Homo sapiens: one gene and its partners. The protein of the gene in region 1 purifies or fractionates together with the protein of each later gene. This does not show direct contact. Each region holds a gene or a part of one and is shown in the gene's direction. Other genes may lie near its edges. The genes, in order: FNDC11, STXBP4, ACACA and EMB.

Region 1 (7,823 bases):
CACCATTTCTTTTCTTTACTTTTTTTTTGGAAACAGGGTCTCACTCTGTCGCCCAGGCTGGAGTGCAGTGGCAGCCTCGATCTCCTGGGCTCAAGCCGTCCTCCTGCCGGACTACAGGTGTGCGCCACCATGCCCAGATAAATTTTTTATTATTTGTAGAGATGGGCTCTCACTATGTTGCCCAGGCCGGTTTTGAACTCTTGGCCTCAAGCGATCCTCCTGCCTCCCAAAGTGCTGGGACTACAGGTGTGGCTACCAGCTCTCCCAAATCCTCCCTAGGACGTGACTCTTCCCCGCTAGAACGCCAAGGCCGCAGAGCCCCAGGGAGGCCTCCTCAGGCCATGGAAAGCTCCTGTGCCCACCACACCAGGGTCAGATGTTCAGGGCACTGAATGCAGATTCCTCCCAGACACTCCCTGCCCCTTAGAGCCACGGGATCATGGCACAGGACTCAGCACATTCCATGCCCAGCTGGAACCAGAGGCAGGCCTGGCCATCAGGGTTAGGGCCCCATTGGGCCTCTGCCCCGGCGTGTCTCACCCCCACCGCCCCACCTGCCCACAGATCAGCTCCCCACGTCTGCCCCATCTTCCCCCTCCTTGCACCTGCTGCCCTTGCACCGCACACATGCCAGGGTGAGTGTGGTCGGCAGGCAGCCGAGGCCGGCTTTATCCAGCTCCTCCCCGGTGGTCCTCAGAATCCCCGGCCCCGCATGCCCAGCTGCCCTGTCCCGCTGCCCTCCAAGTTGTGCCCGCCCGTCCACCCCTTCCTCACCTCACCCACCAGGCGCAACACAGCCCAGCATAGGGCCCCTGCCAGGTGTCGGTGTCAGCAGCCCCTTCCCTGCCTGCTGTGCCCCCCCCACATGACCTCACCTCCTCCCTCAGCCCTAACCGGGTGGGTGGCACAGAGGGGAGTGAGGAAAGGGGCCTGGGTACAGGATCAGTCTGGACGGGGTCAGGAGTCTGGGGCTTGGCCGGGTGAGGCGGCTCACTCCTGTAATACCAGCATCTGGGGAGGCCAAGCAGGAGGATCGCTTAAGCCCAAGGGTTCAAGACCAGCCTGGGCAACATAGTGAGACCCCCATCTCTATTTTTTTAAAAAAAGAAAAGGCTAGGCACGGTGGCTGACACCAGTAATCCCAGCACTTTGGGAGGCCAAGGCGGGTGCATCACCTGAGGTCAGGAGTTCAAGACCAGCCTGGGCAACATGGTGAAACCCCGTCTCCACTAAAATACAAAAGTTAGTCAGGCATGATGGCGGGCACCTGTAATCCCAGCTACTCGGGAGGCTGAGACGGGAGAATCACTTGAATCTGGGAGACAGTGGTTGCAGTGAGCTGAGATCGTCGCGCCACCGTACTCCAGCCTGGGCGGCTGAGCAAGACTCCATCTCAAAAAAATAAAAATGACCAGGGCTGGAATCCTGCTGTCAGACTCACTGTCCACATGACCTTGGGCATACAGTGCTGAACCTCCCTGTGCCTCAGTTTCCCCATCTGTAAGAGCACTGAGCTTACAATGGCAGTGAGGACACAGACCAGGGGGATGGGGTGCAGGGCCCTTCCTGGTGTTCAGATGGAGGCTTGTGGCAGGAGCTCTGCCACATCAGGCCACCCCCCATCCGGGTTTATGTGTCTGGAGGGCACAGCTCTGAGGGTCTCAGTGGTCAGCGTGCATTCTCTCCCCCAAGACTGGCCCCACTACCCCCAGGCTTCACCATCCTCAGGGCCCAGGGAAGAGAGCTTGTCCCCACCAGGGACAACAGATCCAAAGTGTTCACTGCCCGTGCCCTGGTGGCCACAAACAGGGTTGAGCAAGACTGAGCACAAACTGGCCCCTGGTGCCCAGCAGTGAACAGGAGTGACTGTTGACCCTGCACAGAGGGGACTATGCTGAGCGCAAGAAGCCAGTCCCAAGGCTGCATACTGAAAGCCTGCACTGATAGGACATTCTTGAAATGACCAGACAGAGCCGGAGAGATGAGTGGTTGCAGGGCTAGGGAGAGGTGGGAGGGAGCAGCGTGGCTGTAAAGAACATGTCAGGGTCCCGTGGGGGTGGCACTGCCTTGCGTCTGTATCGACGTCAAGGTCCTGGCGTGATTCTGCACTGCAGTCCTGCAAGATGCTACCACTGGGGATGCTGGATAGAGGGTAACGGGACCTCTGTGTTACTTCTTACAACTGCAGATGAATCTATACTTATCTTAAAAGTAAAAGTTTAACTTTATTATTATTATTATTATTTTCGAGACAGGCCTCTGTCTTATTGCACCCAGGCTGGAGTGCAGTGGCACAATCTCGGCTCACTGCAACCTCCACCTCCTGGGTTCAAGCGATTCTCCTGCCTCAGCCTCCTGAGTAGCTGGGACTACAGGCGCCCACCACCACGTCCAGCTAATTTTTTTTTTTTTTTTGAGACAGAGTCTCGCTCTGTCGCCCAGGCTGGAGTGCAGTGGCGTGATCTCGGCTCACTGCAAGCTCCACCTTCCAGGTTCACGCCATTCTCCTGCCTCAGTCTCCCGAGTAGCTGGGACTACAGGCGCCTGCCACCACTCCCAGCTAGTGTTTTGTATTTTTAGTAGAGACGGGGTTTCACCATGGTCTCGATCACGTCCAGCTAATTTTTGTATTGTTAGTAGAGACTGGGTCTTACTATGTTGGCCAGGCTGGTCTTGAACTCCTGACCTCAGGTGATCTGCTTGCCTCAGCCTCCCGAAGTGCTGGGATTATAGGCGTGAGCCACTGCGCCCAGCCATTATTATTCTTTTTAGAGACACAGGGTCTCCCTCTGTCACCCAGGCTGGAGTGCAGTGGCACCATCTTGGCTCACTGCAGCCTCATCCTCCCAGGCTCAGGTGATCCTCCGGCCTCAGCTTTCCAAGTAGCTGAGACCACAGGTGCACACCACCACACCCAGCTAATTTTTCAAATTATTTGTAGAGACAGGGGTCTCCCTGTGTTGCCGAGGCTGGTCTCAAACTTCTGGCCTCAAGGGATCCTCTCACCTTGGCCTCTCAAAGTGCTGAGGTTATGGGCCTGCGCCACCGAGCCTGGCCAAAAGTTTAACTTTAAAAAATTAGATTAGAAATCAGAAATTGAAAGAAAGGGGGTAGGGTGGAGCCCAGGAGAGGGGAGACATCCAGGACCTGCCTGGCCCCAAAAGAGAAGGGGAGGCTGCTCTGCCCCCACCCCGCTTCTCCGTCAGTGGGCTGCAGGGCCGGGGGTAAGGGGTCTAACTCCTACTGCTTCCCAACCCTCCGCGTCAGACAGCACCCCCTTCTCCAAACAACCCCGGCTTTGTCCCCTGGAGCCCTAAATAACAATAACAATAGCTGGCATTTATTGAGTTCCAGCCCAGGCAGGGAGGGCAGGGCAGAAACAGCACCCAACAGGACTGGGTGCAAGGCTCACACCTGTAATCCGGAAGGATCAGAAAGACCCAGGTGGGAGGATCACTTGAGCCCCGGGGGTGAAGACTGCCGCATGGGTGACAGAGCAAGACGCTATCTCAAAAAAAAAACCACCCACATCCACCCACTTCCTGCCAGGCCTAACCCCTGGGGCCTCCATGCACCAAGGGAAAGCTCTTCCAGGGTGGGGTCACCGGGAGGAGGGGGGAGGCTCAAGTTACAGAACAGCCTGGTAGGGGCTCAAAGACGCCCATCCTGGAAGAGGCCCCAGCACTGACCTCCGTGGGGGTGGAGATGAGGAGGATGGAAAGGGTGTCTTCCTCCAGCATCTTCCTGAAGGTGAAGGAGGGGCACCTTGGGGTGTCTAAGATTGTGACCCCAGGAGACCCCCAGCTAGCTGGGGTGTGCTGTGGGGGAACGGGGGGATCCCAGAGGCCCTGAGCCCAACTGAACAGATACAGACGGGACCAGATGGCCTCAGAGCTCCCCTGCGGGGCTCCCTGGAGCTATGGAGACCCCATTTATCCAGAGTCAGGTCGGTGCCTGAGCTTGGGCAGCCCCAGGTGGAAGGAGCCCATGGTGGGAGGAGCCTGTAGTGGGAGGAGCCTGTAGTGGGAGGAGCCTATGATGGGAGGGGCCGTGGTGGGGGGAGCCCGCGGTGGGAGGAGCCTGCGCTGGGAGGAGCCTGTGGTGGGAAGACCCTGTGGTGGGAGGGGCCGTAGTAGGGGAGCCCGCGGTGGGAGGAGCCTGCTCTGGGAGGAGCCTGTGGTGGGAGGGGCCGTGGTGGGGGGAGCCCGCGGTGGGAGGAGCCTATGATGGGAGGGGCCGTTGCGGGGGAGGGGGGAGCCCATGGTGGGAGGAGCCTGTGGTTGAGGAGCCTGCGGTGGGGGGAGCCTGCGGTGGGAGGAGCCTGTAATGGGTGGCATCTGTAATGGGCGGGGCCTTGCTGGGCAGAGCCCGCGGCGGGGGAAGCCGCCCCTCTCCTCTGTCCAGGCGCTGGGTGGTCCATCCGCCTGGTCACCGGCCACTGCCTCTCTCCCAAATTCCTCCGAGGGATTCCCGAGGAGTGCGCTCGGACTGGGGGGTTGAGCAGGAACTCCCTCCCAGTCACCCGAGGCTCCTGCGCCCCGCCCGAAGCCGGGGGTGCGTGGGGAGTGGTGCGCCCGCGGAAGGGCTCCGGGACGGGAACCCCCCTTGGAGCCTGGCTCTTGGACCAGCCACCCGCCGTGGCCCCTCAGTCGGGGACGCGGGCCCCCAGAAGTCTGGGGCTCTCCAGGAAGCGAAGCGGATGGAAGATTACTCGGCTCGGGGTCCCGGGTCCCCACCCCCGCCCCGCCCCCGGGCCGCAGCGTCACAAAGGCCGCTGGTCCCCAGGGCAACCCGCGGAGTGCGGAGGGAGGCTGGGCTCTGGGAAGTCCGCGCGCGGCTCCGCTTCAGAGGCAGGGCAAGTGGGCGCGGTCCTGGGGCGGCGGCGGGGGCCGGGAGAGGAGGGCTGGGGGTCTCGAGAAGGTAAGGGGCAGGCAGAGCGGCCGGGGAGGTGGGCCCGGGCCAGGGGAGCCAAGGGGAGTGTGGTGGAGGGGGTAGAGTGCGGGCACCTGGTGGTCTCAGGGAAGCGGGCCTGGGACCGGGGCGTGTAGGAAGCAGCGAGGGGCTCAGAACCACCTTTCCGGGTTCACGACCAGCCTCTCTGGGTGTTCCACCTGGGCAGCTGCTGGAGACTAGAAAACATCCCTCACACGTCACAGAGGCACGGTTTCCCTCCAGCGGTGAAATCCGCCCCAGCCTCCAGCAAGAGCAGGGCTTAGGCCTGGGGTCCTGGGGTCCTGCTCTCAGCTGGCACCTCACCCCAGACACACTCCCTGCTGCCCCCAGGGGCCTGTTCTCGAGGGATTCCCGAGGAGTGCGCTCGTGAAGTCATATCTGCCTCACGCCCAAAAGGGCAACCCTTCCCGGGCAGATATGACTTCACCACGTACCTGTGTGGCCCTGGGGAACTCAGCAACTGCTTAGCTCTCATTTGTGGGTCGTCCAAGGCCCAAGTGGCTGTGACAACCTGAGATCTCCAGGGTTGCTGGGAGCCGGGGCAGCAACCAGGGGTGCGGCTTGCTCTCCAGGGAGCTGCGGCAGAGCCTGGGGCCACAGCTGCACTCAGCCGGTGCACCCACGGACAGAGGGTCAGACTCGGCTCAGCACTGGGCTCAAGCCCTGGATGAGAACAAGAACCAAGCTTCTTAGCCTCAGGCTCCATCTGGGAAATGGAGTGTCACTTGTGGAGTCCATGAGCTCACCAGGGACAGGATCCCGGGTCCACAGCGAGGGCCCACAGCGTGGGAGGAGGGCTGCTCCTCCGGGCCCAGGCCTGGGCGCCCTCCTCCCATGCTGACCAGCCAGCTGGCCTCGTCTTTGGTGAGGCCTGTCTCTGTGCCCTACAACTGCGGTGAGGCGTGGAGCGTCCCCAGGGAGAACCGGAGCGGGAGGATGGCCCGCGAATGTCCCCGAGGGGGATCCTGTGCTGCTTAGGACCACGCCGTCCCCTCTCCACGGCCCCGAGGGGTGCCAGCAACCCCTTTCAGCAGCAGGGTTAGGAACTGGGGCCCTTGCAAGGCCACAGGTCAGGCGGTTCTGGCCAGAAGTCCGCAGTCCTAGTTCTTCCCTGTCCTGTCCCACAGGCCACTGGTTGTCAGTAGAGGTTTTTGCCCCTCAGTATAAACTGTGTCCAGATCTGTAGGCTGCCCATCCAGCCCTCCAGGCAGCCTCTTCCCATCGAGTTGTGCCCCCGAAGAAGGACAGAGGTCCAGCATGGGGTCAGTGGGCTGAATCCATCCCCCGAACATGCCACAGCCCAGGGGAGGCCAGCCTGCCTGGCAGCTGACACCCAGCCCTCCCCCCAGCTCCCGGATAATGAGCACCCATGTGGCAGGCCTGGGCCTGGACAAGATGAAGCTGGGCAATCCCCAGTCCTTCCTGGACCAGGAGGAGGCAGATGACCAGCAGCTGCTGGAACCAGAGGCGTGGAAGACCTACACCGAGCGCCGCAATGCCCTGCGTGAGTTCCTGACCTCGGACCTGAGTCCGCACCTGCTCAAGCGCCACCACGCCCGCATGCAGCTGCTGCGTAAGTGCTCCTACTACATCGAGGTCCTGCCCAAGCACCTGGCCCTGGGCGACCAGAACCCGCTGGTGCTGCCTAGCGCCTTGTTCCAGCTCATCGACCCCTGGAAGTTCCAGCGCATGAAGAAGGTGGGCACAGCTCAGACCAAGATCCAGCTCCTGCTGCTCGGGGACCTGTTGGAACAGCTCGACCATGGCCGTGCTGAGCTGGATGCCCTGCTCCGGTCGCCAGACCCACGGCCCTTCCTGGCCGACTGGGCGCTGGTGGAGCGGCGGCTGGCGGACGTGTCGGCCGTCATGGACAGCTTCCTGACCATGATGGTGCCGGGGCGGCTACACGTCAAGCACCGCCTGGTGTCTGATGTCAGTGCCACCAAGATCCCGCACATCTGGCTCATGCTGAGCACCAAGATGCCTGTCGTGTTTGACCGAAAGGCGTCGGCGGCTCACCAGGACTGGGCCCGGCTGCGCTGGTTCGTCACCATCCAGCCAGCCACATCGGAGCAGTATGAGTTGCGCTTCAGGCTGCTGGACCCGCGGACACAGCAGGAGTGCGCCCAGTGTGGCGTCATCCCCGTGGCTGCCTGCACCTTCGACGTCCGAAACCTGCTGCCCAACCGATCCTATAAGTTCACCATCAAGAGGGCCGAGACCTCCACGCTGGTGTACGAGCCCTGGAGGGACAGCCTCACCCTGCACACCAAGCCGGAGCCCCTGGAGGGGCCCGCCCTCAGCCACTCTGTCTGAGAGATGATTTTCTAATATTTATCCACTAATAAAGAAGAGTGTAAATGCACATATGGAATTAAAGAAGCAAACCTATTTATGTTTTAAAGGCAGCAGCCACCAGTGTTTTTCCTGGCTCAAAACATGCCAAGCCCCAGGCCTTCTGCTCCTGCTCTTTCCCAGGGGGAGCCACAGGCCGGACCTCCCAAGACAGCTGAGCCTGGAGCAAGAAGTACCAGCCCCTGACACCTACGGGTCCAACGACGACGACAAAAGCTGCTCCACGGGGCCTCTGCGGTCCTAGCCCCCGCCCCTCCTCACCACCCCCATCACCGTGACCGGGCTCCGGCCTTCCTTACCCACCTCCCTGGCTTGTGGGGCTCCCTCAGGGAATGACACTCCTAGGCCGTGATGCCTCCCACCATCCCCTGCCCAGCCTCGAGTGCTCATCAGCACGCCCGCCCGAGGAGGCAGCAGCACCACCGGGGATCCCTGGCTGTGAGCAGCTCAGCCGTGCCCCTCCATGCCCCGCCCCACCTTTTGTTCCTCAAGGGCCTTCCCGGCCCTGAGCTCCC
Region 2 (7,200 bases), on another chromosome or scaffold:
CCATTTCTGGAAATCACTAAGCTATTATCCTGAGCGATTTCTCTTTCATTCTTTGTATTTGTTCTTGTGTAATTCAGATTGGATGTGTGCTATAGCTTCTTCTGGCTGTTTTCTCTTTACCTTTTCTCCCCATTTGTATTTCAATTTTTGTCTTTCTGTTCCATTATGAGAAGTTTCTTTACCTCTGTTGTCAAGTTCACCCATTCTCTTTATAATTGTATCTAACTGGATGTCAAATCTATAAATAAAGTTTCTAATTTAGTTATGTTACATTTTTATTTTTGAGATGTATTTTTTATGTTATCTGGATCTATTTCAATAGTTTCTTGTGTATTATACTTTCAATTCCCTCTTATTTTTAAAAACATATTAAACATAATTGCCTTATATTTTGTATCTGCTCACTTAAATATCTGCTGTCTTTATAGATCTGATACTGTACTTTATTTCCTTCAGTTAGCTTTCATTCATAGAGCTTATTTTCTCATATGTTTAGTGATTTTTGTTTGTGTCTGTGAGATCATGTTCTATCAATGCATTATAAGTGGGAATTCTTTGAGCTCTGAGTTTTAGAAATATCTCTCCAGAGTTTTGAGTTTGCTTCTGCTAGCCTGGGACCAATTTAAAGTAAAATTTCAGCATATGGCTTTTTAGGCCACACAGATAATGTAAATTCTGGCCCCAAACCTGTGTGAATGGGGACTTTTGGTTAGGAATTATTCAGGAGAAACTTTTTTACTCAAGTCACCTGAGCCAACATCAAAACACTGTTTACCTCTGTGAAGTTTACTTCTTCCCAGTTCACCCATTGAGTTTCTTCTGTTTTCCATTTGTGACTGTTGAAACCCCAAACTGTAGGCCACCAGGGATCAGCATATACCCTCCGAACAAATAATGCTTCAGTGCTCTCTTACCCCAGTGGGCTCACTTGGCATCGCTGTTGCATGTCTCCATGGAATTCCTTTACTTCCTTGCTAGCTTTGTCTTACATCGTGTGTGTGTGTGTGTGTGTGTGTGTGTGTGTGTGTGTGTGTGTATCCAGCATTTTTAGTTATGTTAAATTAGTAGAGGTTTCTGTCAGCATCTGGTAAGACACATTGCAAAAACAAAACAAAACAAAACCATAAACTAATTTAAATGTATTTTACTATAAGAATCAATAAACTCATATACAACTTATCTCATAAAACTTGCAGTATCTCTGTGCAAATTAACTTTTAAATATGCAGTTAGTTACATGCCCCCCAAAATCAAAACATATGTACAGTAAGAGAAAAAGATAATTTGGTAATATTGAATATTAGTTCATAAAAACTGAAAATAGGGACCAGTAATGTAAAACTGAAGAAATGTGTAAATGCTCCTTTTGATATCTCTGTGCAGGAAAGTGTTCAGGATTTAAAAAAGAGAATCATGGTACTCGACTGCCAATTACGAAAATCAGAAATGGCTCGAAAAACTTTTGAGGCATCCACTGAAAAGCTTCTTCATTTTGTAGAGGTAAGTTTTTCTGTTCTATTACATTCATCTTTAAAAAATATATAGGCAACTGGCATATAGATAAATGTTACTGTATTTGGTACCTAGTGAAACATTCTCTAGTCTCAAAGCAGCAATGCTGGCTTATGGTCAGATTTAGAACTGCATACATGATGAAAAGACTGGCTAACATTTTATAGATTGTTTAGAGAAATAATTGAGACAAGGTGATGGGATTCCAAGTATATACTATTTTAATGAATACTTTACCAAAAATCCTGATAATGCATAAACATTATTTGATAACTACTTACCTTATAAAGAAATGTTTTCATAGCTGTTATATTTCTGAGTAAAACTGCATGTTAGTTCAATTGTTTGCACCCCCGCTACATAATAGAAGCATCAGTTTAATCCGTGGACAGAGGAGGTTATAAATATTAATGAAGAAAAGATATTTTTTAAAAACTGTCAAACTGATATATCTCCTTCACCATCTTGTTTGTTGCTAGGCTATTCAAGAAGTATTTTCTGATAATTCTACTCCTTTATCAAATTTAAGGTAAGAAAATTTAAGTGCTTTTTGCAGAATATGGGTAGTGATTAAATTCTTCATCTGGTCATTGTGACTCAAATACTAAAAATCTCTTAAATAGTCCTAAGGTGCTACATAACTCCCATTGGATGCCATCATATGGAAATAGATGCAAGGACATATTGTTTTGTGTCCCATCTCTGTTAAAGAAATTCCTGGAGGTATTTAGTCAATCATTGTAACCTTGTAATCTAAAATTATGGTAGAAACCACCTATCCTGTCTTTATCAAAAATTCTATAAAGATGAGATTAACTTAAAATTCTGTAATTGTCTTGCGTATGAATCAAAGTTACTGGTCACAGGTTCACTACTAAAAGTGTCTCAACCCAGCAGGTTAGTTGTTCTGGCAAACAGAATTTTGGAAAACATATTCATGCAATCATTTTCTTTCGTTTTCATCTTTCAGTAGCTATAAATAAAAGAAATATATTTGGAGAATATACCTCGATTGTCTCATTATTCATAATATGTTTTGGATTTAAAGTTTCTTACTAGAAGCTGGAAACATACTAATCAAATTTATTTATTTCAAACCACAAGTTTATGGTCATTTTGATACATGATGAAAGACATTTACAAAAGAAAGATTCTTGTTTATGCATTTCCAAAGTAATTTTTTTCTGCTCTCATAATAGCTGCCACTAGTCCTAGATACATCTTCTACTTCTAGCAATATACGCTTGCAGAAACAGGAAGACTCAATGAGGTTGGGTGTGATGGTGCATACCTGTAATCCCAGTATTTTGGGAGGCTGAGGCAGGGGGATCACTTGAGCCCAGGAGTTTGAGACAAGGAACATAGTGGCACACAGTGGGACCCTATCTCTACAAAAAAAAAAAAAAAAAGAAATAGCCAGATGGGATGGTGCATTCCTATATTCCCAGCTACTTGGGAGGTTGAGGCAGGAGGATTGCTGGAGCCCAGGAGCTCTAGGAGATTGAGGCTGCAATGAGCTGTGATCATACCACTGCCCTCCAGCCTGGATAACATAGTGATGCCCTGTCTCAAAAAGTAAATAAATACTCTACCCTTTACTGTGAAAACAGCAGCTTAATAAGTGAAGATATTTTTGGTGTCCACATAGCATTTTTTAATTTAGAAGAATATTTATAATTCACTTCTAAACTCAAGTAATGTTTTACTTCTTATGATGAAGGAACCTGACATAACTTCTTACTCTCCTTGCTGCTTATGATACAAGAAAACTCTGTGAATTTCATGATTATTACTCTCAGTAAGGATCTTAAAATAATCAGTAATCACATTTATTTCTTTATGGGCTAAGTGTGTCACCCACCCTCAGCTTTCCAAGGTCTTAGTTTTACCTTGACTAATAATTCAAAAGTTTTGTTTTAAAAATTAAGGTTAAAATGACTATTTAAAAGCCAGAGCCTGCCCTTGCCTTAAACTGCTTCATGGAAAAAAAGACAACTTTAAATAGCTACATCACGCAACATTTCATGGTGTCTTAGTAAATTAAACACTAGTAAAAACTGGTGCAGTCATTTCAATATAGCATATCCTCTACATGGATATTGGCCCTGGTCATTCAACACAGAATAAAGGCTATGTATTTGAATTTGAGAACTGATGCTTTTGTTACCCTTTGTGAATTAATATCATTATGCTTAGGAAGATGGAGTATAAATAATGATGATTTTGTCATCAGTTTAAATTTTTTTTTCAAGTAAGTTTTAGTGTAATTTTTTGAAGAAAACATTTAATTTTTAATTAGATCAGAATGCATTCATTTTAGGTGACATTTGCATTTTTTGAAAGTGATACAAATGCTCTAGGCTGTTTTTGATTCGAGGCAAAAAATGGAATAATTTAAGAGATAATTTCAGGAGCCAAATACATATATTGAATTTATATTTAATATTACTAGAAGTAATAATAAATGTATTTTAACAAATTCATGTTTATATGCTTAATTTGAATTTATACAGAACTAAATAAAATTATATCATGTTAGCAAAAGAGAAGCACTCACAAAATAAGCCCAACAAATGATTTAGGAGACAGGTCATCCTTCTATTACTTCTTTATCATACATGAAGTCAACCTAATTTTAAAATATTTCTACTTATTATGTCGTAAATAATTGAAAACAGAAATATTGTTTTATGTGAATTACTTCAATTTTGGTTATATGAAATAATTTCCTCAGAAATATAAATATTTTTGTACAAATCTATAACTGATACAACTTCAGATTTAGTAAAGATAGATGTTGTTTATTGTGTAGTAAGTTCAACTTTATTTTATTGCCTTCATAGTGAAAGAAGAGCTGTGTTAGCTTCTCAGACTTCCCTCACACCACTGGGAAGGAATGGACGTAGCATCCCAGCAACGCTGGCGCTTGAATCTAAGGAACTTGTTAAATCTGTTCGTGCCTTACTTGATATGGATTGTAAGTTTTCTGCATTTTTTCACTTTTTAAAAGTAATTTATTTAACAAAACAAATTGAAGTCAGACAGTTGAATTTCGTTATAGTGGCTTGCCTACAGCAAAGTTGATACCTAATCAATAAAAATATTAATGTACCAATCATAGGAGGAGAATATTTCCTTTATGTAAAGGCTCAGAATGAAGCTCTAATTAAGATATGCCTTTACATCCACTTCCACCCAAAGTTTCTTTGAAATGGCAGAATAAATGTAAAAATCAATCCGCAGCAGCACTGGAAACTGGAGGAGTGGAATCAGCATTGAGGAACTTGTTGTTAAATAATAATATCCCACAGGTGGAATAAGATTAAATGTACAGTCCAACTGAGCAAAAGACCCCAAAACACAAATATAACAGACAAAACTGCTGAAACGATGAGTTAAGCAGAACCATGGAAAAAACCCCAGGATCACAGACAGTGAAGACTGGGAACAGACTCTGGGGCAGTCAGCAGGGTAATTAATTAAATGGCTTGGAATAGCTGAACCAGTTCCCTAGTCTTCAGAGCTGCTGGCTCAGGCATATCCTCCTATGCTGGAGCCAGGAAAATACCTCTCTAAAGGAACTACATGAACTGTCACTAGATACCCCTAGAGTCATCATTGGGCTAGAAAGAGAAGTAAGGCAATGCTCTAAGTAACTTCCATCATCCCAACAGACAGAGAAATCCTTGGGGAAAACTTAAATGATTGGACATTTTCCTCTTTTTCTTTTTGTGTCTCTCCAGACACTTTTGTCTCTTTATGAATTTCAACTCCCTTTTTCTAACTACTTCTTACGTACTCTTTATTTTCCTGCAATGAAAATTATAATTTACCTAACTATACCTATAATTTATAAAAATCAACAATGTGCTAATGTACTGTAGAGGAGAAATAAGAGGGAGGTGATTTATAATAAAATTATATATATTTCAAAACATAAATGCTTTAGTACAGCTATACTAGGATATATAATGTAGTCATCAGATGCCTGCACCTAAACAGAGAATCACCACAAATGTGGCAACCATGAATGTAGACTGATACAGGAACATTGTGTTGTCATTTTAAATAGCATGAGCAGATTGTCATCAGTAATGTCCAAATGATTGTCCAAAATGGTGACCAATGGTAAAGTTCTGAAGAGAAGAAAGTAAAATCTTCCATTAATTTATATAGTAGGTACAAGCCTGGGAAATTTAATGTATATTAAAACTATGCAAAAATATTTGGAGTTTATCTAAAAATGGAATTTTGTTCCAGATTTTAGTAATTACAAACAGATTTTTTACCACCATAAATATCTAGTAGGACATTTAAACATTATACAGGACACAGAACAATTCTTTGTTGCACAGGACCGTTCAGTGTATCCAATAATGATAGGATGTTTAGCATTCCTAGTACCCTTTCACTAAATGCCAAAAATATCCCCAAACACTGTGACAATAGATAATGCCTCACAAATTTCCAAAAATGCCCCCTAGGTGCAATACCATTCTTAGTGGGAACCTCTATTGTTGATCCTTATTTAAAATATGAACCAACAACCAAGAATCACCTAATAATGGTCCAGGGGGAGAAGAACTGCATAACAGGGAGATTCTGAAGAGAGAGAAAAAAAGTCTTTAATTAAATAAAGATAATGTAATATTCTGAAGATAGCTATATTATATTCTTGAAATAAAATGAAGTTATTATCCTTAAAGAGAATCAATGACACATTGCATTCATAACACAAGAAGTAGTTGCATGCAAGAAAGCATTTTTTTTTTTAAGACATGGTCTTGCTTTATTACCCAGGCTGGAGTGCAGTGGCTCGATCTCAGCTCATTGCAACCTCCTCCTCCCCGATCCCCCATCACTCCCACCCCTAGGTTCAGGTGTCTCAGCCTCTCAGGTAGCTGAGACCACAGGTGTACATCACCATGCCTGGCATTTTTTTATTTTTAGTAGAGACAGGGTCTCTCCATGTTGCCCAGGCCTGGTCTTGAACTCCTGGACTGAAGCAATCCACCCACCTCAGCCTCACAAAGTGTTGGGATTAAAGCCATGAGCCACCACACCCGGCCAGAAAAGAGCTTTTAAAAAGTATTTTACATCTCCTTTTTCACTAAATGAAGATATTACTCAAAAAAGTTGTTTGATTATTAAATAATATAATTTATTTGAAGCACCTACCTATCACATTCCTAGCACAAAAAACATACTCGGGAATAAGTTTTGAATTGTGGTTGAACTATGTACATAGCACTTTTTTAAAAATAAGCTGTTCCATTTACCATTGCTGCAGAACAAATCAACCCAAAAGTTAATGGCTTAAACCAACAATTTAGTATTGTCTCTCATGGTCCTTTTGGTTAATTGCGCTCAGCTAGGCAGCTCATGTTAGAGCACTCTCACGTGGTTGCAGTCAGATGTCTGTTGGGGATGCAATATCTGATGACTCTACTGGGCTGGACATCTAAGATGGGAGCTCATCTGTGGCTATCAACTGGAACACCTACCTATATTTGGCCTCCCTAGCATGGTGACCTCAAGGTAGTTGAATTTCTTATGTGGTGGCTCAAGGCTCCAGCATAGGTGTTTCAGTGAACAAGACAAAAGCTGTATCACCTTTTATGACCCAGCCTCAGAAGTCACACAGCCTCGCTTTCACCATATTCTATTCATCAATGCAAATTTGAGGGG
Region 3 (7,200 bases), on another chromosome or scaffold:
AAAGTAGCTTATCAAGATAGATAAAAAGTTTAAAATTTAAGAATTGGTTTTTTTTTTCCCCCTTTTCTAATACAGGTTCAAGCTGAAGTTCCTGGATCTCCCATATTTGTGATGAGACTAGCCAAACAATCTCGTCATCTGGAGGTGCAGATCTTAGCGGACCAATATGGCAATGCTATCTCTTTGTTTGGTCGTGATTGCTCTGTACAACGCAGGCATCAGAAGATTATTGAAGAAGCACCTGCTACTATTGCTACTCCAGCAGTATTTGAACACATGGAACAGGTACATATATTAAAAGGCTTACTTTATGTTTTCTTACATAGAACATTTTTCATTCAGTTCATGTACCAATCTGAGAACAATGGCATTTTAAGCAACGATTCTGAATAATTAATAAAATTATATCCTTTTCTTAGAGAAAAAAAATTCTACTGTTCTCCCACTAAGAGAATTGTCAAGGAACATGTCAAGCTTCTAAAAGTAGTTAACGCTTTCTAAAAAAAATCAGCGTACCATTTCAGGATACAGGGATAAAGAAGAGAAATGTTTTGGAATTTTTAATCTTATGATTGATTTTTTTAAGAGGCTCATAATCAGGTAGTTTTATTTGCTGGGTTGAGTATCATCAAGTCTTCAGCTGAATTTAATCAACTCTATTATCGTTTTTGGAAAGTCCTCTAAATATCTTCAGAGTTCACACATTCTATCTTTTTGTATAGAAAGTAGTTTCTCAAAGTCATGAGCGATGCCTTCGGAATAACTATAGTTTAGAGGCCTGAACATAGTCTTTTCTGGAGTCCTAACCCAGTCTCTACATCAAAATAGATTCTTCAAAATATATTTCATGTGTGTTAGAGGTCTATTTCCTATGTTGTGTATATATTAGGATGTACTCTTGAACTGCTGTAATAAAGATGCCTTCAAAATACAGTGGCTTGGCCGGGCATGGTGGCTCTTGCCTGTAATCCTAGCACTTTGGGAGGCTAAGGCGGACAGATCACTTGAGCCCTGGAATTCGAGACCGGCCTGGGCAATATGGTGAAACCCTATCTCTACTAAAAATACAAAAATTAGCTGAGTGTCATGGCACACGTCTGTACTCTCAGCTGCTTGGGAGGCTGAGGTGGGAGGATCACTTGACACTGGGAGGTCAAAGCTGCAGTGAGCCTTGATCATGCTACTGCACTCCAACCTGGGTGACAGAGCAAGACCCCATCTCAAAACAAATAAATAAATAAGCAAAATACGGTGGCTTAAACAAGGTGTAAGTTTCTATTTCTCTTTCATCATAGTTCAGAGATGAGCTGTTACCAGAAACAGGTTTATTGCTCACCTGTTGCCTGTTTTTGTAAATAAAATTTTGTTGGAACACAATGATGCTTATTTATTTATGTGTTATTTATGGCTGCTTTATCACTACAATGGTAGAATTGAATAGTTGTGACAGAGGCTATATGGCCCACAAAATTGAAAATAATTACTATCTGGCTCTTTACCAAAAAAGTTTGCCAAACTTTGCTCTTGGACATTGTCATCTTCATGATTAAGCTAACTCACACAAGATTATGTTCACATTGTGGCCTGTGGGAGGAAGAGACAGGGGATGTGGAGGGCAAGCATATGGAAGCATGATCTTGAAGTCACATACATCACTTCTGCTCACATTCCACTGGACAAAATTCAGTTACACAATTATACCTAGCACAAAGGATGTTAGGAATTGTGATCACTAACTGGGTGACCATGTGCTCAGCAAAAATTTCGATTTTATTCCTAAAATGATGAAGTAGAGAAAAGTCACTGGAGGGCATTTCATAATCTGTGCCTCAGTCTGTTCCTCTGGCTACCTATTATCCCTTTATCCTTTTTCCTACTTTCAGAGCACACATAGCCTTTGTCCAAGGAAGACAACCTGAAGCCCCATCCAGTTACTAGTAACTGGATGGGTTATTACTGGAGGTGATTCCGGATCTCTATATGATGTATATTCTTCTCCATTAGATATGTATTGTGGCTTTTCATGGGCCAGTGACTCAAAATACAAGTTATTTACCCAGTATTATATCCCCTGCCTTCACCATACACCCATATACAATGATGGAATAGGAACAGGATAACTCTCATTTGGAAAAATGAAAAATACATAGCAATCGTTGGTCCATAGCAGTTATCAAATCCTCCTTTTTAGGTAGGAATTGCAATGATTCCCTGCTATATAATAGAATACTACCTCAGTTAGACCTGGCTGTCCCTGGTTCTGCTACTGCACACTCCAGAGAAGTGCAATAAGGGAGTAAATCCCTTGTTCATTGTCCTTCAAGACACCTGACATTGTTTTCTGGGAAGTTCTTCCTCATTCAGTTTTCTCTGTGAGTTGGGCTTTGGAGACTATGCCTTCTTTGGCAGAACTTTCACAACCCACTTCCTGCTGGTGCAGGATTGAGGGCACAAATATCCCAATCATCAGTCGCAGGCTTTTGAAGGCCAGGTTTGTGGTTTGTTTAGAAATACAATTCCTTCAAATACTTAACTAAGCTTCTGGGCTATTTGCTTGCAATCAGCTTTGGGTTGGATTAATCATACTCATAGATTTCTTCTAGATATAGAAACTTTTCTTCTATTATTTACTGGCTTCTGTGCTTAGCCTATCTCTCTTGCCTTGATTTAATATTGGCTATCTTGGGGCCAGCTGAAACTAAAGCAGCACGTTTGATCTTTGACACTGAGTTGCTTCAGGGTGATAATCTCATTTTCTGTTTGGGGGGATACAAAAGAAGTTGGCTTTTTCGACACTCTGACCCTTTCAGACCATCTTTTTTAAGGTTTAGTTGGTGTGTGGTCAGTATCCCAAGTTATTGTAGGAAACAGTTTACCAAATGTTGTGTTATCCCAACAAGGAGATTATCACCTTTCCAGCCTGCAGTATCTGTTTCTCTGCTACCCACTACCCTTTTGCTAAGCTAGCATCTCATATTTTAATATTTTTAAACAGCAACATTCTACCTGCACTTAATAATTCCTGTATCGATTAGGATACAGGTTAAACTGCTATAACAAAAAGGTCCAAAAAACACAGCGGACCCCCCCAAAAATAGAAGTTTATTTTTCTCTCCCATCCTAGTCTGAGGTGAGCTTTTCAGGGCTGGTGGAAGTGTTTTATTCCACGAGACCATCTTGGGATTCAGGTTCATTCTTTCTTTTCTTTTTCTTTCTTTTCTTTTCCTTTCTTTTCTTGGTGTTCTTAGTGTGTTCTCATTTGCATGATTGAAGTTGGCTTATACTATCATGACTATGTTCCAATGAATAAGAAGGAAAAAGCCAGGAATAGAGAATGAGACATTTCCTTTTCAAAATATGACTTAGGGCTGGGTGCTGTGGCTCACGCCTATAATCCCAGCACTTTAGGAGGCTGAGGTGGGCGGATCACCTGAGATCAAGAGTTCGAGACCAGCCTGGCCAACATGATGAAAACCCATCTCTACTAAAGATATAAAAATTAGCCTGACATGGTGGCATGTGCCTGTGATCCCAGCTACTCAGGAGGCTGAGGTAGGAGAATCACTTGAATCCGAGAGGCGGAGGTTACAGTGAGCCGAGATTGCGCCACTGTGCTCCATCCTGGGTGGGTGACAAAGCGAGACTCCATCTCCAAAAAAAAAAAAAAAAAAAATATATATATATATATATATATATATATATATATATATATATATATATGACTTGGGAGTTATGCATATCACTTACCAATGCTGGTGTCCTGTTTGTCAAAACTTAGCCACTAACCAGGCCAGGCATGGTGGCTCACGCCTGTAATCCCAGCACTTTGGTAGGCCAAGGCGAGTAGATCACTTGAGGTCAGGAGTTTGAGACCAGGCTGGCCAACATGGGGAAACCCCATCTCTACCAAAAATACAAAAATTAGCCAGGCATGGTGGCGCATGCCTGTAATCTCAGCTACTTGGGGGGCTGAGGCAGGAGAATCACTTGAACCCGGGAGGCAGAGTTTGCAGTGAGCCACGAGATTGTGCCACTGGACTCCAGCCCAGGAGACAGAGTGAGACTCTGTCTCAAAAAAAAAAAAAAAAATCTAGTCTCTAACTAGTTAGCTATGTTTCTAGGAAGAAGAGGAGCATATTGGAAATACTGGAAACTGGACAAGAGTCTGTCCCCATGTTTTTTTGTCTGCATGCATTTATGTCTGGTGGGGTGAGGTTGCTTTTGATGCAAAGTGAAAAATGCTCTTTTCTCCCGATTTTTCATTGAGTTTTTCATCCTTGTCCAGGGATATTGTATAATAATCAGAAATGTGCTCTCATGTGGCTAAAAGCTTTTGATGGCTCTTATACACACTGAACAGTTGAGTCAGTGAGAGGCTGTAGTGGTCTAGCAGTTGGATAAGGTGAGATACTTATGTTTGCTTATCTCTCTTCTTTGAGTGTGCGGTGAAACTTGCCAAAATGGTGGGTTATGTGAGTGCTGGGACTGTGGAATACCTGTACAGCCAGGATGGCAGCTTCTACTTTCTGGAATTGAATCCTCGGCTGCAGGTAGAGCACCCTTGTACAGAGATGGTGGCTGATGTCAATCTCCCTGCAGCACAGCTCCAGGTGAGTCTCCCTGATCTGGGTTGCAGAGCCTAGAAAAGTCAGAGAGGCCTGAAAAATGGGTTTAACCAGTGTGTGATAAGAGAAAAGCACCTCCTATCTGAGTCACACCTAATGGTCATTTCTCTTTCACCCTGTATGTGTTATGCATGTGTGGTTTGGTTTTCCTGATGTAGTACAGACATAGGAATGTTATTTTTTCTAGCCAGACACATCTGATATAATGTGTCATGTTTTAGAAATAAATGTTAATAATGTATGCTTTATTCAATTATTTAGCTATAGTAAACTTCACAACTTTGTATTATAATTATTCCCTACTCATTTTTGTTTTTTTACTAGTGTTCTTTATTGAAATAATTCTGCATCAGAGATTAGTGGTTGAAGTTTTTCCTTACAAGAGTGTGGTAGCACACATATATTTTTATAATTTGTAAAGTGCTTGCTGTCAATATTATTGTCTTCTCTCAGCCCAGGAAACAAATATTATGGAAAGCAGTAATAGTTAATGATAAGGCTTGATATTATTTTTATCTAACATTTGCCCACATCGAGAACACCTTCTGGGTTCCTATTAAAGACTAAAGATTTACTTACTTCCTCCAGTGGTTTGCAGGGATGGAAGAGATAATTATGACACAATTAAGACTTTCTAGCTGTCTGTTTTTGGATGGCTATTAACATTTACTCCTCTGTTGGATATTTTCATTCTTATTACGTGATGGAGAAATGACAACAGGGGAACTGGTGTCTGTTGCATTAGGAATGTGGGGACTTCTTTAGAAGTGGAGAATATTCTAACTACTTATCTGTAGTGATATATTGTATTTCAAGCAACTTAGAGTTGATGATTGTAGAATACAGGTTATAAAAATAGAATGTTTTAGGGAGTGGCTCCAAAAATAAAAATATTTTAGGTTATCTGATAGCCTCTACACTTTAAGGGAAGTAACTGAAAAATTAAAGATGTGTGTTTTATTACCTTTCAGATTGCCATGGGGATTCCTCTATATAGAATCAAGGATATCCGTATGATGTATGGGGTATCTCCCTGGGGTGATTCTCCCATTGATTTTGAAGATTCTGCACACGTTCCTTGTCCAAGGGGCCATGTTATTGCTGCTCGGATCACTAGTGAAAATCCAGATGAGGTAACCCATCACTTAAAAGGTTTATACCTCCTTTTAATGAACTTTAATGTTAAGATAGTATCTGAAAGTATACTTCTGAAATATCTTGGGACTTCCTCTGGAGTGGGAAACATAGAGGTTTCTCAGAGCAGATAAGTAAATGGTTGTTGCTTCATTGGTTACTTAATCCCACTTAAGTCACTGTAGAGTCTTCAGTGGGTCTGTGGCACTGGGTCTTGGCCTTTATCATTTTTGTGTGTCTTCTCTGCTTCTGTGTGTGATTAACAGAGAACTTAAACAATGAATATATAAATCTTCTCTTCCTTCGAAACATAATATGGTCTCTCATTCTTTATTCTCTAACAGGGTTTTAAGCCCAGCTCAGGAACAGTTCAGGAGCTAAATTTCCGCAGCAATAAGAATGTTTGGGGATATTTCAGTGTTGCTGCTGCAGGGGGACTTCATGAATTTGCTGATTCTCAGTTTGGTCACTGCTTTTCTTGGGGAGAAAACAGAGAAGAGGCAATTTCGTGAGTATAATAGCATTTGATTGCATTTTACAAAATAAATTTGTGCTAATCTTAAGTGAAGGTGTGAGCATGGGAATAGGAATCATCTGCTGTCAAAGTAATAATATGAACAACCTTTTTGAAGAAATTTTGAATATCTTTAATTACACTTGCATTCATGTTGTATTAAATTATGCAGTGCTTGGCAGATGTTTTTCTGTTTGTTGTTCTGAGCCTTTTGAAGTATTTTTCCTTTCAAATATTTTTGATAAATGTATAAAATTGATTGCTTTAAAGGTATCTTATTTTTCCACAGGAACAGTATTGTTATTGAGGGGAGGTAGATTCTTGGCCAAGAACTAGGTATCAAATAAATCATAGACTTTTATTTTATTTTTTTCTTGTGAGAAGACTTAAAATCTATTAGCAATTTTCAAGTACACAATCTATTGTTATGAGCCATAGTCACCATGATGTACTCTTATAGTTATTTAAAATAATAAAATTATACTGCTCATATTATGAAAAGGACATAAAGAAACTGTCTACATTGCTAATACAAGAGACCTTAGCATGCTGTATATAACAGCTTATGCAAATATAACTGCTATATCATAAATGTTAGATAATATTCTGTTAATCATAAACAATGAATATTAAATTAACAGCACTTTTGCTTGCCTAAAACATAGGGCTGAAGGAGGTAATTTTAACAGCTTAGATCTTTTGGAATATCTATCTAAAATTGAAACTTGAACTAGTTCTTTTCTGTTTTTTAATGGTTTATTGCCTTGTATCAAACATTTAATACCATTCCCTTTACCTTTGTACTGTACATGGAGTAGGTAATTAATAAGTGTTTATTAGTATTAATTACTAATAAATAGCATTTGTTTATTAGTAATTAATCCTAATATATGGTTGTTTGTATTAATAAACACTTATTGATTAGTT
Region 4 (7,200 bases), on another chromosome or scaffold:
TGCAGCCTTGACCTTCTGGGCTCAAGATGAAGAAATTGGGGCTTGGCTTATGTAATTGCCCAAGTAATTGCTTAATTGCCCAAGTAATTACACATACTTAGTTAAGCAGCAGAGCAGGAAATTTGGCATTGGTCCATCCAGTGCCTGTTTTCCTAAACACAGTGCTTAAACACAATATCCAGTTGTCTCTCCGAGCTAATTGGAAATGTCTATGAAAGTTCAGAACTACTGACAGCATAGCCTATGCATCTAAATGTCTGATTTGCACTGAATGACATGCTGACACAGTTTGAGTCCTGGAATAAAATTAGGTACAGGGACTGTTTTAAGGTTTTTTGATTAAATAAGACATATAATATATCTTTGTAAAGGATATATCAGTGGGAGTATTTAAATATCATTATTATTACTATTACATGACACAAATTGGAGAAATGGGTCATGTTTATCTTTTGAAAAATGTTTGCAGTAGAATCATTTAAAATGATCCTTTTAACTTCCAGAGGACGTGGCTTTTGCATTCCCTTTATGAACCCCCTTCCCTACTAACCTCTCACCCCAAACACAGCAGCTTTCTAGTAATAAATATTTTTGAAGCAAATACTATTCAAGCACCCACATATGTCTGACATTGTTAGTCCATATCTCAGTAGAACATGCTGGCAGTTTTTACCTTTAAGGACATTTAAAGGGGTTCCCACTGGACAAATCTGGGACAAATTGAGCATCAAATAAATAATGATATTAGTGGATTGCAACTCATTTAATAATATGGGAATTCATGAGTACCCACTGATGTAAATTTAAAAAGGAGTCAATGAAAAGTTTGATGGGGTACAAAGTATTAAAGATTCAGAGTAACTCTTCAGAATGTGCTCATTAATATCAAGGGAAAAAGAGTAACTTTATGGTGGAGAAGCTTGGCAGACAGCACTTTGATCAAATGATCAAAGACCAAAATCTGTTTAAATGGAACAGATGAACCATAAGCCTACTTTTATTTATTTATTCATTCATTCATTCATTTAATTTTTGAGACAGGGTCTCACTCTGTCACTCAGGCTGGAGTACCGAGGCACACTCATGGCTCAGGGCAGCCTTGACCTTCTGGGCTCAAGAGATCCTCCCACTTCAGCCTCCCACATGGCTGGGACTACAGGCATATGCCACCACACCCGGCTAATTTTTGTATTTTTTGTAGAGATGGGGTTTCACTAGGTTGCCTAGGCTGGCCTTGAACTCCTAGGCTCAAGCGATCTTCCTGCCTCAGCCTCCCAAAGTGTTGGGATTATAGGCGAGAGCTACGGTGCCCAGCCTAAGCCTACTTTTAATAGTGATGTTTCTGATGCATGACCATTTTTACCCTAAATTTATCATCACAAAAAAATTATATGTTGAAAACATTTGTTAAGAATTAGGGCAACTGACTCTTCCTCATCTTCTGTCACCCTCGTTCCCTTCCCTCCTACCTCTCATCTTTCCCTCCATAGGTCCTATAGTTATTTGGTGGGGAAGAGCAAGGAGACATCCTCACTAAGTGGGTGGAGCCCAAGGGGACCAGATCAGGATATCTGAGGCTGACCCTGGTAAGGATGGCATCAGGCAGGAGGGCAGCCTGGTGTGGAGTATTAGGGCCTGAGCACAGTGAATGGTTGCTCCTGCAGCGGGCAGCTTGACACAGGATCCCAGAGTTGAGCAAGTTTAACAAGGCTTTTGTGCAGGAGCAGCAGATGGGTGATGTTTGATCCCAAACAAGATGTGGAGGAAAGCATGTAGGAGGGTCAGACCAGCGATGGAGGTTGGAGCCTGAGTGGGTAAGGAGACATCTCTGTGGGGACAGGTGTGGCAGTAGCAATGACAGTTTAGCAGTATACAGGGTGATGGATCAAATAATTAAATCTAGGAAAGATAATAGGATCTAGGTTTTTCACTAGAGAAGAATGAAATAAAGATAGAGAAAAAGTAGAATGAACCCTGTGGTGTTGGATTGCAGTTGGCAGTATCCATGGGAATCCATGACATTAAATCCCTATCTCTTTACTTAAGTCTATATAGGTATATAGCTTTAAACAAGTATATGTGTAAATATATGTATGATGAATACGTATCATGCATATCATATACATAAGTGTATATGATATACATTATAAGTTGTATGTGTATATGAATATGTGCACATGTATTCTTAGCAGTGATTTCCAGTAGTGATGAGTATACTTAGCACCCAGATCTTGGGTTCTAAATACCATTCTTTACTAATAGTAACCAAGGCTTCTTGGAGAAATGGCTGATTTCAGGGCTAGTGTGGGAAAGTAGCAGATAAGCCTAGAACATCTTGTGCCAGAAAGCAATGGAGTGCTCAAAGGATAATGAGTCATGTCAAAAAGATACAGGAGCCAATATGAAGGGGTTCCCACTGGACAAATCTGGGACAAAATTGAGCATCAAAATAAATAATAATATTAGTGGATTGTAACCCATTTAATAATATGGGGATTCATGAGTACCAACTGAAGCAAATTAAAAAATAAATCAATGAAAACTTTGATGGGGTACAAAGTACTAAAGATTCAAAGTAACTCTTCAGAATATGCTTACTAATATCAAGGGAAAAAGAGTAACTTTATAGTGGAGAAGCTTGGCAGACAGCACTTTGATCAAATGATCAAAGACCAAAAAAATGGTATGCCATCTGAGACGATCTGGTGAGAAGAGCACAGCATCACTTCTATGATCTTCCTGCCAAAGATGCCTACCTCAAATATAATCATATTAGAGCAGAACTGTCTTGGAATTTTAAAAAGTGTCAAGGTTATGGAAAAGTCAGAAGAGACTGTCACAGGTCCAGAGTGAAGCCACATTAGAGAGAAGTGATAGCCAACGGCAATGTGTGATTCTGAGCTGGAACCTTTTGCTACCAAGTGCGTTATAGGGACTTTTTTTTGAAACTTAGATGGGGTGTGGGGATGAGATGGTGCTTCATATATATTCATTTCTTGATTTTAATGGTTGTATTGTGATGGTATGGGGAATGTCCTTTGTAGGAAATAGACGGTAATGTTTTAGTGGGGCATGAAGCATCAGGTCAGAAACTTACTCATATGGTTCAGAGGGGAAAATGTTCTGTTCTTGAAATGTTTCTGCTACTTTGAGATTGTTTGAAAAGAAACAAAAATAATTAGTTTACCTGAGAAAGCTTCAGTTTACCGAGGTATTAAACTAAAACAGTAGTTGAGAAATCTGTTAATGTTCTTAGGTATCATTTTCCAAAGGTGTATATGCCCTCCAACAGAAACAAATCACATGTGTTGAGGCTATTTGTTCTAAAGTGTAATCTTTTCACATTAACTTTGTACAGCTGGTCTCACATATGGCACAATATAAGGTGAACGTTAGAAATTAATAACTTATGACATATATGCTGATGTAGGAGAACAAACCTCACAACACTTTGCTAAAAATAAACTCTACTCCTAATAAAAATTGCCACTATTTAAACATAGAACATCTCAAATAATGTTAGAATAGAAATTATGAATGTTACCTTTAAAGAGTTGTTATTCTTTTCTTTGAAAATAGCATTTTCCTGGCATTTTTGAAGTTATTGAGGTTATTGTACTAATGTGTCCCTAATCCCAAACCAGAAGCTTTTAATAGCCTTGCAATTATATACTTCTGAGAACCTGAAAGGGAATTTAGATACCTTGTTTCATTGATCTTGAAGCCCAAAGTGCTTTTGTAACTTAGCCAAAAGCAATGAGATAGCTAATAGCTATAACTGTTTTCCTGGTTTGCATTTCAGCGTCCCTCCAGCATGTGGTTTTTCTTCATAAAAAGTCCTCAAAATAGGCCCCTGGCAGGAGGGTGTTCTTGGGAGAGAAGGGTGGCAAAAAATGTTCACACTTTAAAAATGTCTGCACCTAAACTATGCAGAACAGGAATTTAGGGCCACAGGGCCATTGGAAGATTATTAAGAATGATCACATTGAAGAATCAGTATTGCTGATGTATCTGTTCAAAATCAAGGTTTTCAACTTTGGTACTGTTGGCATTTTCCGCTGGATAATTCTTTGTCGTGGCAAGCTGTTATCCTAAAATGTTTAGCAGTATCCCTGGCCTCTACATATGCGGTGGGTGAATTGTACACCCCAAAAAGATATGTTTAATCCCTGATCTTGGGTACCTGTGAAAGTGACCTTATTTGGGAGTAGGGTCTTTGCAGATGTAATGAACTAAAATAAGGTCATACTAAATTAGAGTAAGCCCTAAACCTAATGACTGGTCTTTATAAAAAAAGGAGAAGGAGATTTGAACAGAGACAGAGACATATACAGAGGGAGGATGATCATGTAAAGACAGAGGCAGATATTGGACTAATGCAGCTACCAACAGCCAAGGAATGCCAAGGTTGCCAGCAACTCCCAGATGCTAGGCAGAGGCAAGGAAGGATTCTTCACTCAAGAGTTCAGAGGAGGAAGGTCCTGCCAACACCTTGATTTCAGACTCCTGGCCTCCAGAACTGTGAAAGAATACACTTTTGTTGTTTTTGCCACCAAATTTGTAGTCATTTGTTATGACACCTAATTTGTGGTAATTTGTTATGAAAACTTATATAACCTACTAAATAAATGTAGTAATCTTCCCCCAATTGTGACAAGCAAAATGCTTTCAGACATTGCCAAATGTCTCCTGCGGGGCAAAACTACCCTCAGTTGAGAGCCACTGAACAAAATCCCAACTCTTATCGAATAGACTAACAATTGAAACATTTAACAAATCTACAGTCTTTAGAAAGAATAGAAATCTTAGTTATTAACTTTCGGGGTTTTATTTTTTAATAAGTTTTTATTTGGCATAAGTTACTGTTAAAGTATCTTAGTGACCCATGTAGAGGTGATTTGAAACAGAATTTTTACATTGCCCTTTGAAACGTATATTATTGCCAAAATTATATTTTTTTAAAGAGATCTATTTATTTCCATTCCTATACCATCTGGTTTTTAAAATAGTTTTACAAGACTGGTAAAAGTGTGCATTGTACTTGTCAGTAGGCCTTAAAAAAAAAACCTTGTCTGTAAAGGCTTCTTGTCCAATAGCTTCCATACTGTGCAGAAAATATCAAGAGTTCAAGAGTTCTCTGTGTGGAGTGTTATCTGTCTCTGACTTAGAAAGTCTGACTTATAAATGTTCCCATCAGGATTACTATAAGTTTTTTGTTTTTTTTTTGGAGACAGAGTCTCACTCTGTCATCCAGGCTGGAGTGCAGTGATGCGATCTCAGCTCACTGCAACCTCCGACTGCCGGGTTCAAGCAATTCTCCTGTCTCAGCCTCCCAAGTTGCTGGGACCACAGGTGCATGCCACCATGCCTGGCTAATTTTTTGTATTTTTAGTAGAGACGGGGTTTCACCATGCTGGCCAGGCTGGTCTCAAACTCCTGACCTCATGATCTGCCTGCCTCAGCCTCCCAAAGTGCTGAGATTAGAAGCGTGAGCCACCGCGCCTGGCCCTGATAACTAGAATTTTTTGACAAGCTTTTTTTTTTTTTTTTTTTTACTTGTTTTTCTTCTTTTTTGGATGAATCTCTCTGGAGTATAATTTCCAGGACTCAGAGATGCCTTATTTCCTTTTTCCTCTTTCTGCTGCATTTATGGACAGGGGATAGGGCTACTCTGCTCCTAAAACCCATAATTCTCCATGTGTTGTGTATAATCAGTATTTTACTTAGTAATTAGGTATTTTAAAGCTAAGTTTTAACCATATCATGGCTTAAGTGGCCTTTACAATTTGGCATGGGATCACATGGTTATATATAACATTGCTTCCATGAAGAAATATATTCTTATTTCCAAATCTCTATTTTATGAATAATATGTAATATTCATTCCTATCAGTGTTTCTGTAATTGGGTTGCACATTTATAATGCTGTATATCAGAATGTTAAAATTAAGTACTGCATGTTGATAGCAATCAGTATAGAGATGAGAAAGATAAAGAATAATATTTATTCTAATAGTTGCTTCTTACATTTTTTTCTTAATGAAGTTCAGACCCTTCCAAGATTTTAACATATAATAAAGGGATTTTGGGGGCTTTAGAGAGAATGTTTATTCTTAATCAGAGATGTAGTTGCATTTATTTCCTGATTTAAAAAAGCAAATCTTAAGACCCAATGCAGTTTTCTAGTGTTACTTATTTTTCTTCCCAACTTACTTCAATTAAATGAAGTCCTCAAAATGAAATATGTGAAAATGTTACCTTAATACCTTTAAGTAGAATTATAGCATGTTTATTTCACTTGAAAGTGTTAATAGAATAAATTATATGCCCTTCTAGCAACACATTTTAAAATATAATATGTGAAAAACATTTAAGTAGAGACCATTTTGCTATTTCACAGAAAATTATAACAGGTGAAAATTAAGATGTTACTCACTTCTTTGATGCAGTAGTCTTATGCCTCAACTGCCCTGCAAAGAGAGAAAAAAGTCTTTTAATCTCTTGAGCAACTATTTGATGTTACTCTTTCATGTTGATATTTTTGTCTCTACCTGTAAAAGAATGCTATATGGAAATTTTCCAGCAATGATTAAGAAAGGGTGAGTTTGATAACTTGAGAAATGCATGTTATGATCTTGGCATCATCACTCATATTTATACAACTTTTCTGATCCTCATTTTTTTTCCCTATCAGATGAGGTTTACAGTGGAGACATATTTTCAAAGCACTGAGCTGGGCATATGGCGTTTGGAAACCCTAAGTAACAGTCAGTGACAGAATTTGGATTAAGACCCCAAATTCCTTCCTCTCCATTTTATACTTCTTTTTGTGACTCAGCCTAATCCTTTTAGGGAAGTATTCAAACCACATCTGCCTGAGTCTCCTGCCAATTTCCTTTAAACCCCAATGTTAGCTGAATCAGCCTCCTGCCAGCTGTCCTCCAACTGAAAGCAATAAGGTTTACATTCTCACTTTTTTGGTTAAAAAAATCTTGCCTAAACAAAGAACTTCTTTTACTGTCCTAATACCTTCTGTAGGTTGCCCTGCTTTTCCACTTAAGGCATTTCTGTATATTGCCTCTTTAAGGGACTTTTCCCAAGGCAAAAGTCACACAGCAGTTACACGTGTTCTTTTGCACTTGGCACTTTTTCCGTGGAACCTGAAGCTTGACCAAGATTAGTGCCTTAAAGGGAATATGA

The links.
Region 2: the proteins of FNDC11 (region 1) and STXBP4 purify together in Homo sapiens (affinity purification with mass spectrometry; 3 studies listed by BioGRID and IntAct, with this or other methods). This does not show direct contact.
Region 3: the proteins of FNDC11 (region 1) and ACACA purify together in Homo sapiens (affinity purification with mass spectrometry; 2 studies listed by BioGRID and IntAct, with this or other methods). This does not show direct contact.
Region 4: the proteins of FNDC11 (region 1) and EMB purify together in Homo sapiens (affinity purification with mass spectrometry; 3 studies listed by BioGRID and IntAct, with this or other methods). This does not show direct contact.

Annotation. Positions count from the first base shown.
Region 1 is NC_000020.11:63,549,352-63,557,174, forward strand, and holds FNDC11 (fibronectin type III domain-containing protein 11), read left to right. Parts: upstream 1-4,807; 5' UTR 4,808-4,855; exon of another isoform or gene 4,856-4,920; intron 4,921-4,991; exon of another isoform or gene 4,992-5,817; intron 5,818-5,823; exon of another isoform or gene 5,824-6,210; coding exon of another isoform or gene 6,211-6,215; exon of another isoform or gene 6,216-6,243; coding exon of another isoform or gene 6,244-6,312; coding exon 6,313-7,269; 3' UTR 7,270-7,344; downstream 7,345-7,823.
Region 2 is NC_000017.11:55,076,695-55,083,894, forward strand, and holds part of STXBP4 (syntaxin-binding protein 4), read left to right. Parts: intron 1-1,383; coding exon 1,384-1,500; intron 1,501-1,991; coding exon 1,992-2,041; intron 2,042-4,355; coding exon 4,356-4,489; intron 4,490-4,495; exon of another isoform or gene 4,496-7,200. UniProt on the Homo sapiens protein: Plays a role in the translocation of transport vesicles from the cytoplasm to the plasma membrane. Inhibits the translocation of SLC2A4 from intracellular vesicles to the plasma membrane by STX4A binding and preventing the interaction between STX4A and VAMP2.
Region 3 is NC_000017.11:37,256,770-37,263,969, reverse strand, and holds part of ACACA (acetyl-CoA carboxylase 1), read left to right. Parts: intron 1-75; coding exon 76-285; intron 286-4,439; coding exon 4,440-4,610; intron 4,611-5,596; coding exon 5,597-5,758; intron 5,759-6,103; coding exon 6,104-6,267; intron 6,268-7,200. UniProt on the Homo sapiens protein: Cytosolic enzyme that catalyzes the carboxylation of acetyl-CoA to malonyl-CoA, the first and rate-limiting step of de novo fatty acid biosynthesis.
Region 4 is NC_000005.10:50,431,105-50,438,304, reverse strand, and holds part of EMB (embigin precursor), read left to right. Parts: intron 1-7,200. UniProt on the Homo sapiens protein: Plays a role in the outgrowth of motoneurons and in the formation of neuromuscular junctions.